2 linked regions of the Homo sapiens genome follow. The gene in region 1 interacts genetically with each later gene. Each region holds a gene or a part of one and is shown on either strand. Other genes may lie near its edges. The genes, in order: BAG6 and STK11.

Region 1 (4,002 bases):
AGACACACGGAAATAATACGGCATCAAGAGGGCACAAACCAACGGGTCTGGGAAGATGGGGAGTTACATTCTGATCTTCACTGCTTAAAGCAGAAGTATGGTAGGTATTTAACAGAGTCAGGCAGCACAACTTACCTACCTCTTCCTCTGAACAGGCTGTCAGAAAGCAGTGACACTAATTACTATACTTTCTTTTTCTAAACCTCATTTTCTTCATCTTTAAAATGAAAGGTTCAGAGTCAATGAATTCCCAGGGCCCCTTCCCCTAACATGTCACTAGGGGCTCTTACCCAGTGGTTATATAATGGCAAGAAGGTACCACTGCCTGGCTGGGCCGGGGGACAGGAAGATGAGGTGAATGGCAAGCCAGCCACTCACCTGCAAGAAGTCAGTCATGCCTTGGAGAAAGGCAGGGACACCAGGCATCGCCACAGTGATGGTGGGAGAAGCCACACCAGACCCTCCAGCCCCTGGCCCTGCAGGCCCTAGCAGGTTCCCCAGAAGCTGAGAGAACTGAAGATCAGCCATGGAGGGTTGAGGGGTGGGTGGAGGCTGGGCAGGCCCCCCAGGAGCGGGGCCAGCTGTGGTAGCTGTGTTGGTGGTGCCAGCACTGGCAGAAGCAGTGGCAGGGGCTGGCGGTGGAGCCATACCTGGGGTCCCCTGAGCTGTAAGAAACCAAAAAAAGAAAGCTGGGCTGAGCATGGTGGCTCTTGGCTGTAATCCTAGCAACTTTGGGAGGCCAAGGCATGAGAACTGCTTGAGCCCAGGAGTCTAGGCCACATAGCAAGACCCCATCTCTACCAGAAAAAAAAAAAGACAATTACTAGCCAGGAGCTAGTACTGCTAGCTACTCAGGAGGCTGAGGTGGGAGAACTGTTTGAGCCCAGGAGTTCAAGGTTACAGTGAGCTTTAACTCACTGGATTGCACCATTGCACTCCAGTCTGGGTGACAGAGCAAGACTCTGTAACTTAAAAAAAAAAGAAAAAAGCTGGCCGGGCACGATGGCTCAAGCCTGTAATCCCAGCACTTTGGGAGGCCAAGGTGGGTGGATCACAAGGTCAAGAGTTCGAGACCATCCTGGCCAACATGGTGAAACCCCCTTCTCTACTAAAAACATAAAAAATTAGCTGGGCGTGGTGGCGTGCACCTGTAGTCCCAGCTACTCAGGAGGCTGAGGCAGGAGAATCACTTGAACCCGGGAGGCAGAGGTTGCAGTGAGCCAAGATTGTACACTGCACTCCAGCCTAGCAACAGAGTGAGACTCCATCTCAAAAAAAAAAAAAAAAAAAAAAAAAGCTGAAACCTGAAGACACAAGACACTACAGCAGCCCCATTCCAGGAAAGCAGGAACCAAGAAAATATGGAAAGAACTGGAAAGTGCCAGTGAGCAGACTAGGAAAGGAGTTTAAACTCTGAGTGGGGAAGAATGAAAACTCACCCACAAGGACTGGCTGCATAAGAAGCTGCCCCACAAGGCCGCTCACCATCTGGGCCAACGAGGCATTGGTACCCAGACCGGCGCCCTGCTGGATAGAGAGCAAGGGAGAATTTCAGACCTGCCCTTCCATGCACCACCACAGGAGTCTCTCCCTAGACTGTTACGCACTAGAACTCCCCGACCCTTGCTCACCAGTGTCCCAGAGACTGGGGGCCCTCCAGGATGGGAAGGCCGAGCCTGTGGAGGAGTGGGCCGGGCAATCACCACCCGGGTTGGAGCTGTTGGGAAGCCTGGCACCTGCTGTCCTGTGGGTGGCAGAAGAGACAGACCGAAGAGGGCTGAGGGCCAGGCCCTTGCCAGCCAGCTGCCACCATGGACTGTGCCCTACCTCCCAAGCCTCCCCTTCCAGGTCATTACCTGCGGCCGCGGAGGCAACAGCTGCCACCATGGCCTGATGAGTGATCTGGTGGGCGACGGCGTGCATGAACTCAGGGGGCAGGGAGGGCAGCTGGATGAGGGTGGAGCCTGGGGGGCGGGTCTGATGTAACCTTGAACCTGGACCCCTTCAACCCACCCACTCAGCCCTTCCCTTTCTCTACCCAGAGCTCAGCCTGCCCTGATGCCCTCACTCTTACCCAGGGTTTGGCCATGACCAGGGGGTCCCAGGGGGCCAGTGGGAGCACTCGGAACACCACCAGGCTGTGTGCCAGAATCTGGGCAGGGAGACAGAGACAGTGGCCCTGAGGTAGGTAGGGCCAAGGCCTAACTATATCCTTCTGAGATCAGGCATACTTCAGGCCCATAATCCCCCAATCAGAAAGCCTGCCTTTCCCTCCATCTAAACAGGGAGAGGTACTCCCTTCACCACACAAACACACCTCCAAAGACAAACCAACCCCCACACCCCCCACATCTGTCTACTTAAGCTTCTGCTCTGGTCCCCAGGCTACCACCACCAGCATGTGCCTCTCCCTTCCCCACCCTGTTCCCTCACACCTCAGCATGAACCTCCCTCATCATGCTGATCCTGCTCTTCTCGCCAGCAACTATTCTCACCTTGAATGTTCATGTGCATCATGACCACGGGTTCCACACTCTGGTGGGAAATCCGGATGACCCTCGGGTGGCTGGTGGCTGGCGGGGGAGCTGGACCTGGCGGGGGAGCCCCCTCAGCTGAGGACTCGACATTGGTAGAAGACGGAGCCACGGATGAGGCCTGCCCAGGACCAGGGGGAGGTGCCTCTGCATTGGGAGTTGGGGGGGGCCGAGTCCCATTTCCTGTCATGGTCACAGTGGTTCCCACATTGATCTGAAAAAGACAGATGGACAGGCAGATGTGAGAAAAATACAAGAGCCTAACCAAGAAAACCTCATGATAAACCTCTAAAGTATCTCCAGCCTTCATCACCATGTTTCCAGTCTCCTCCTTTCCTAACCTCCTTCAGGCCCAGTAGCTACCCTGGGTCACTCTATCAACACCCCTCACTCTCCCTCAGGCCAGACTCCCCCTAACCCACCTGTATGGGAATGGCTGCCTGCTGGAGCACCATGGGGGTGGTGTAGTGAGACATAGGCCGGACCACATGCAGGTGTCGTGGGGGCGTGCAGGCCAGATTGCAGCGCAGGTCAGACAGTGCAACAAAGGTGTTGCCCAGCAGTCGCAGGCTCTCCCCTACCAAGTTGATCAACCGCTGATCCTCCTCCCGGCCCTCGTGCTGCGCACAACCAGCCAAACACAAAAAGGCAGAAAATATCAAGCTGGAGTCCATCTCACTAATAAAAGCAATAATGCCTACTGAGAATACCATGTCCTCCAAAACTTTCAGTTATATCCTTGGAAGTTTACATGTAGACCAAATCTTTGCAAATAAATTATATCTTATTCACATAAGGAACATCCTATTAAAACACTACTATGAATCAGTAAGTCATCATATACTGATCTCCTGTACTTTACATTTTCTAAATTCATTCAGGGGCACAAGGGGTACGATACGAGGACAGTGCTTACAGCAAAGATTATCACCTTCTCTGTAAGGGAGGACAAAATCACTTACAGGTTTAGAGAGAAATTGTTTTGTTGCAATGTGTGTTTTTTTGTTTTGTTTTGTTTTTTGAGACAGTCTCGCTCTGTCACCCAGGCTAGAGTGCAGTAGTGCAATCTCGGCTCACTGCAACCCCCTCCTCCCGAGTTCTAGCGATTCTCCTGCCTCAGCCTCCTGAGTAGCTGGGATTACAGGTGTGCACCACTACATCCAGCTAATGTTTATATTTTCAGTAGAGATGGGGTTGCACCATGTTGGCCAGGCTGGTCTCAAACTCCCAATCTCAGATGATCCGCCCACCTTGGCCTCCCAAAGTGCTGGGATTACAGGCGTGAGCCACTGCACCTGGCCCTGTTGCAATGTTTTTCCAGGGAGGGAAAGAGTTATCTGCATTTCAGCCTGTTCTGTTTTGGGAGTACTGGGGCTGAGGAGAAAGGGCAGGGCCATCAAAGGGCTCACATTGTTATTGTAGTCCGTGGTGGCAGCAGCACCCAGAACCTCGTAGTAGCGCTGCAAGA
Region 2 (3,077 bases), on another chromosome or scaffold:
GCGCGGGCCGCGGAGACCCCGGCTGGGCGGGAAGGAAGGGGCGTGAACGGCTCTCAGCTTCGGGCTCCTGAGGACAACGATCACTCGCCCTCAGTCCCGGACGGGGCGGCCGCTTAGTCGCAGGGCCCGCCACCCGAGGGTCGCGCAGCCCACTGGGCCCGATGGAGCCGCCGCGTGCCGGGCGCGTGCGCGAGCTCGCCCGGGCGGGGGCCGCGGGGCGCTAACGGTCGCAGACGAGTTCGCCGCCCTGGGCCGGGAGGCGGCTCAACACCGTGACTGCCGACCTCCGAGACCGTTTACCTCACTGCGGCGTGTGCTGGCGGCAGCCCGCGCCGCCTCCGAGCAATAACCGCGCCGCCACCGCTGCTGCCGCCGGCCCTGAGGGAGCCGGCCCCGGCCCTCCCGCGCCCCGAGTCCCCACTGCCCTCCGCATGTCAACGGCGCCCGCCCCGCTGCCGCCCCATCCACGTTGAGACGCGAACAAAACCCAGACGGCCAGGTCCAAGCTTCCCAAGCTTTATTTATTGCCAAATTTGGGCGGCCTCGCCCGCACGGCACCCTCCGAGTCCCCGCCGCGTCTGCACCATCCCGCGATGGCGTTTCTCGTGTTTTTCTTTTCTGGATGATATAAATATTGACCGCACACTCCTGCTTGCTCCGGGTTTTCTCTGGGGTCCCAAGAGCGCAGTGGCCTTGGGGGAGAGGTGAGGGTCCTGCCCTCCGGCCGGGCCGCCAAAGCAGGGTGACCCGAGAGCGCAAAGGCGGCCGCGACGTGAGCCCGACCCCACAGCCCCCCTGCCACCCAGCAGCTCCCAAACACCCCTCACAGCCACAGCTCAAATCCACCTTTTATTTTTTCTTAAAAAAAAAAAGAAAAAAAGAAAATGGAACCAACCAAACAAAAAACCAAAGCGGCCGCGCGGCTTCCAGGTGGCGCTGCATGCATGGCGGGGTCAGGAGCCTGGTCTCCACACCCGCCAGCTGGTCTGCGGCGGGGCCGCCGGACGGCGCTGGGCGCCCTGCGGAGCACGAGGCCACGGGCGGGGCCAGTAGTCTCCACATAAAGTGCATGGAGGCCGCCTCCCTCCTCCCACGCCCGCCCGGGAAGGCTCCGCCCGGGGCTGCGAAGTCAACAAGCCGCGTGCACTGCCGGGCGGCCGAGGGGGGAGGGCTGCGCCCGGTCCCTGCTGTCCCCCTGCCCGGCCCTGCAGGGCGCTCCGGAGGTCCTGGGGCGTGGTCGGCACAGAAGCATGGCGGCCACCTCTCCGGGAGGGCGGGCGGAACCGGCAGGAAGACTGAGGGCCTGGCGCGGGCACCTGGCGGGGCTCCTGGACACGGGCTGCAGGGTGGAAGGAAGACGGAAGAGGTCAGCCTGGGCACCGGTTCTCCGCCTCCCGCGGGCCCCTGGGAGGATGGAGAAGCTGAGGTACAGTCATGGGGCTACCGGACTCCTGGGGGGCAGCAGGGGAGGCCAGGGAAGGCCACCCTTGAGTCACTCCCGGGGTACATTGTGTGGCCTTTTGCAGTGGGGCCTGGCGGGCTCTGACGCTGGTGGATGGGCTGTGGGCACCCATTTGGGGGACAGACATGTAACTCAGGCGGTGGCCCCCAAAACCTGGGAGAGGGGCTGTGGCAAGGCAGGGGCTTCAGCCTCGGGCCCCCATCCACCCCGCATCCTCGGCAGGTGACTTAAGGGTCTCTGACACCTCTGGGACTCCGTCTCCCACCCGGGGCTGGGGCTGGGGCTGGGAGAGGAGGCAGGCACACAGGGAGAGACAGGGCAGCGTCCGGCACGACTCAGCCTCAGCCATACTTGGCAGCTGGCTCAGAGCCTGCGGCACCCCGGCAGAGCCATGGAGGCCGCGGCCCCTCCCCACCACCCACCACCCACTGGTGCTCAAAAGCCTCTGGGCTGAGCCCAGCATAAGCCTTTCCTGGAAGCGGCGCGGGCATGGGGAGGGGGCGCCAGGCCCAGGGCAGGGTCCTCGGAATGCACCCACTCTGAGAGGTGGCTGTGAGGACGGCACGCCCCCCCAGAGCCCCGCCACACGTAGGCCTCCATGACCAGCACGCTGGCCAGACACCAGGCCCCGAGACGGCACCCTCCACGGGGATCGCTACGTGGCCAAGCCACCCAAAGGCCACATGGCAACCACGCGCAGCCACGTGACGGTCACCATGACTGACTAGCGCGGGCTATGCTCACGGCTGGCTGTGGCATCCAGGCGTTGTCCCCACATGCCCCACCCGGGCCCCGCCGCGCCCCACCTGCAGGCGGCCAGCCTCACTGCTGCTTGCAGGCCGACAGCCGGCGGATCTTGCTGCTGGCGGAGCAGGCCTTGCGGGCAGGGTTGGGGGCCCGGCCCTCCGCCCTGGATTTGGTGCTCAGCTGCGCCGCCTCTGTGCCGTTCATACACACGGCCTTGGGGAGGCCCCGGCGCTGTCCATTGTGACTGGCCTCCTCTTCTGGGACCTGTCCTGGGAGGGAGACGGCAAGTGTGGCCTGAGCTGAGGGGCGCAACCCCAGAGCCACAGGGACCTGGCTGGCCCCCACCACGGGGACGCACTTACAGCTGCTGCCCAGGCCATGCCCGCCCCCGGGTCAGGCCCAGGTGTATCCAGCCTGAAATGCTGCCCCCCAGCAGCTCTGGGAGGCACCCCCCGGGGCTGAGCCTCCCGCAGATGGCCTGGGCAGGAGTGTCCCCTCCACCACGTCTGTTGCACCTGCCATGGCCGCAGGTGGGACCCCACCCAGGTACTGACTGCAGGAACCTCACGAGTAGGAGGCAAGCTGACAAGGCAGGACCCTCCCGTGCTCCCCTGGGGCACCCTGGCCCATGGTTGGTTCTAGAGGCCCAGGAGCCGCCACATGCTCATCTGTGAGGACACAGGAGGGCCAGGCTCGGGCCAGGCTCAGGCCAGGCACGCGAAATGCCAGCACAGAACCACGCGGGGAGCAGAGCTCAGCCTGCCAGGGCCCCCAGCTGCCCCCAGTCCCTGCTAGCCACCAACCATCACCAGCACCCTGGTGAAACCCACAGGCCTGGGGCTGCCCACCCTGCCCAGGTGGACACTGT

The links.
Region 2: changes in BAG6 (region 1) and STK11 together harm fitness more than expected from each alone (negative genetic interaction), as found in Homo sapiens cells (one large-scale study listed by BioGRID).

Annotation. Positions count from the first base shown.
Region 1 is NC_000006.12:31,642,451-31,646,452, forward strand, and holds part of BAG6 (large proline-rich protein BAG6), read right to left. Parts: coding exon 3,944-4,002; intron 3,155-3,943; coding exon 2,957-3,154; intron 2,749-2,956; coding exon 2,496-2,748; intron 2,180-2,495; coding exon of another isoform or gene 2,153-2,179; coding exon 2,075-2,152; intron 1,965-2,074; coding exon 1,857-1,964; intron 1,745-1,856; coding exon 1,632-1,744; intron 1,528-1,631; coding exon 1,440-1,527; intron 666-1,439; coding exon 379-665; intron 1-378. UniProt on the Homo sapiens protein: ATP-independent molecular chaperone preventing the aggregation of misfolded and hydrophobic patches-containing proteins.
Region 2 is NC_000019.10:1,225,855-1,228,931, reverse strand, and holds the end of STK11 (serine/threonine-protein kinase STK11), read right to left. Parts: intron 2,479-3,077; coding exon 2,285-2,478; 3' UTR 2,269-2,284; intron 1,340-2,268; 3' UTR 501-1,339; downstream 1-500. UniProt on the Homo sapiens protein: Tumor suppressor serine/threonine-protein kinase that controls the activity of AMP-activated protein kinase (AMPK) family members, thereby playing a role in various processes such as cell metabolism, cell polarity, apoptosis and DNA damage response.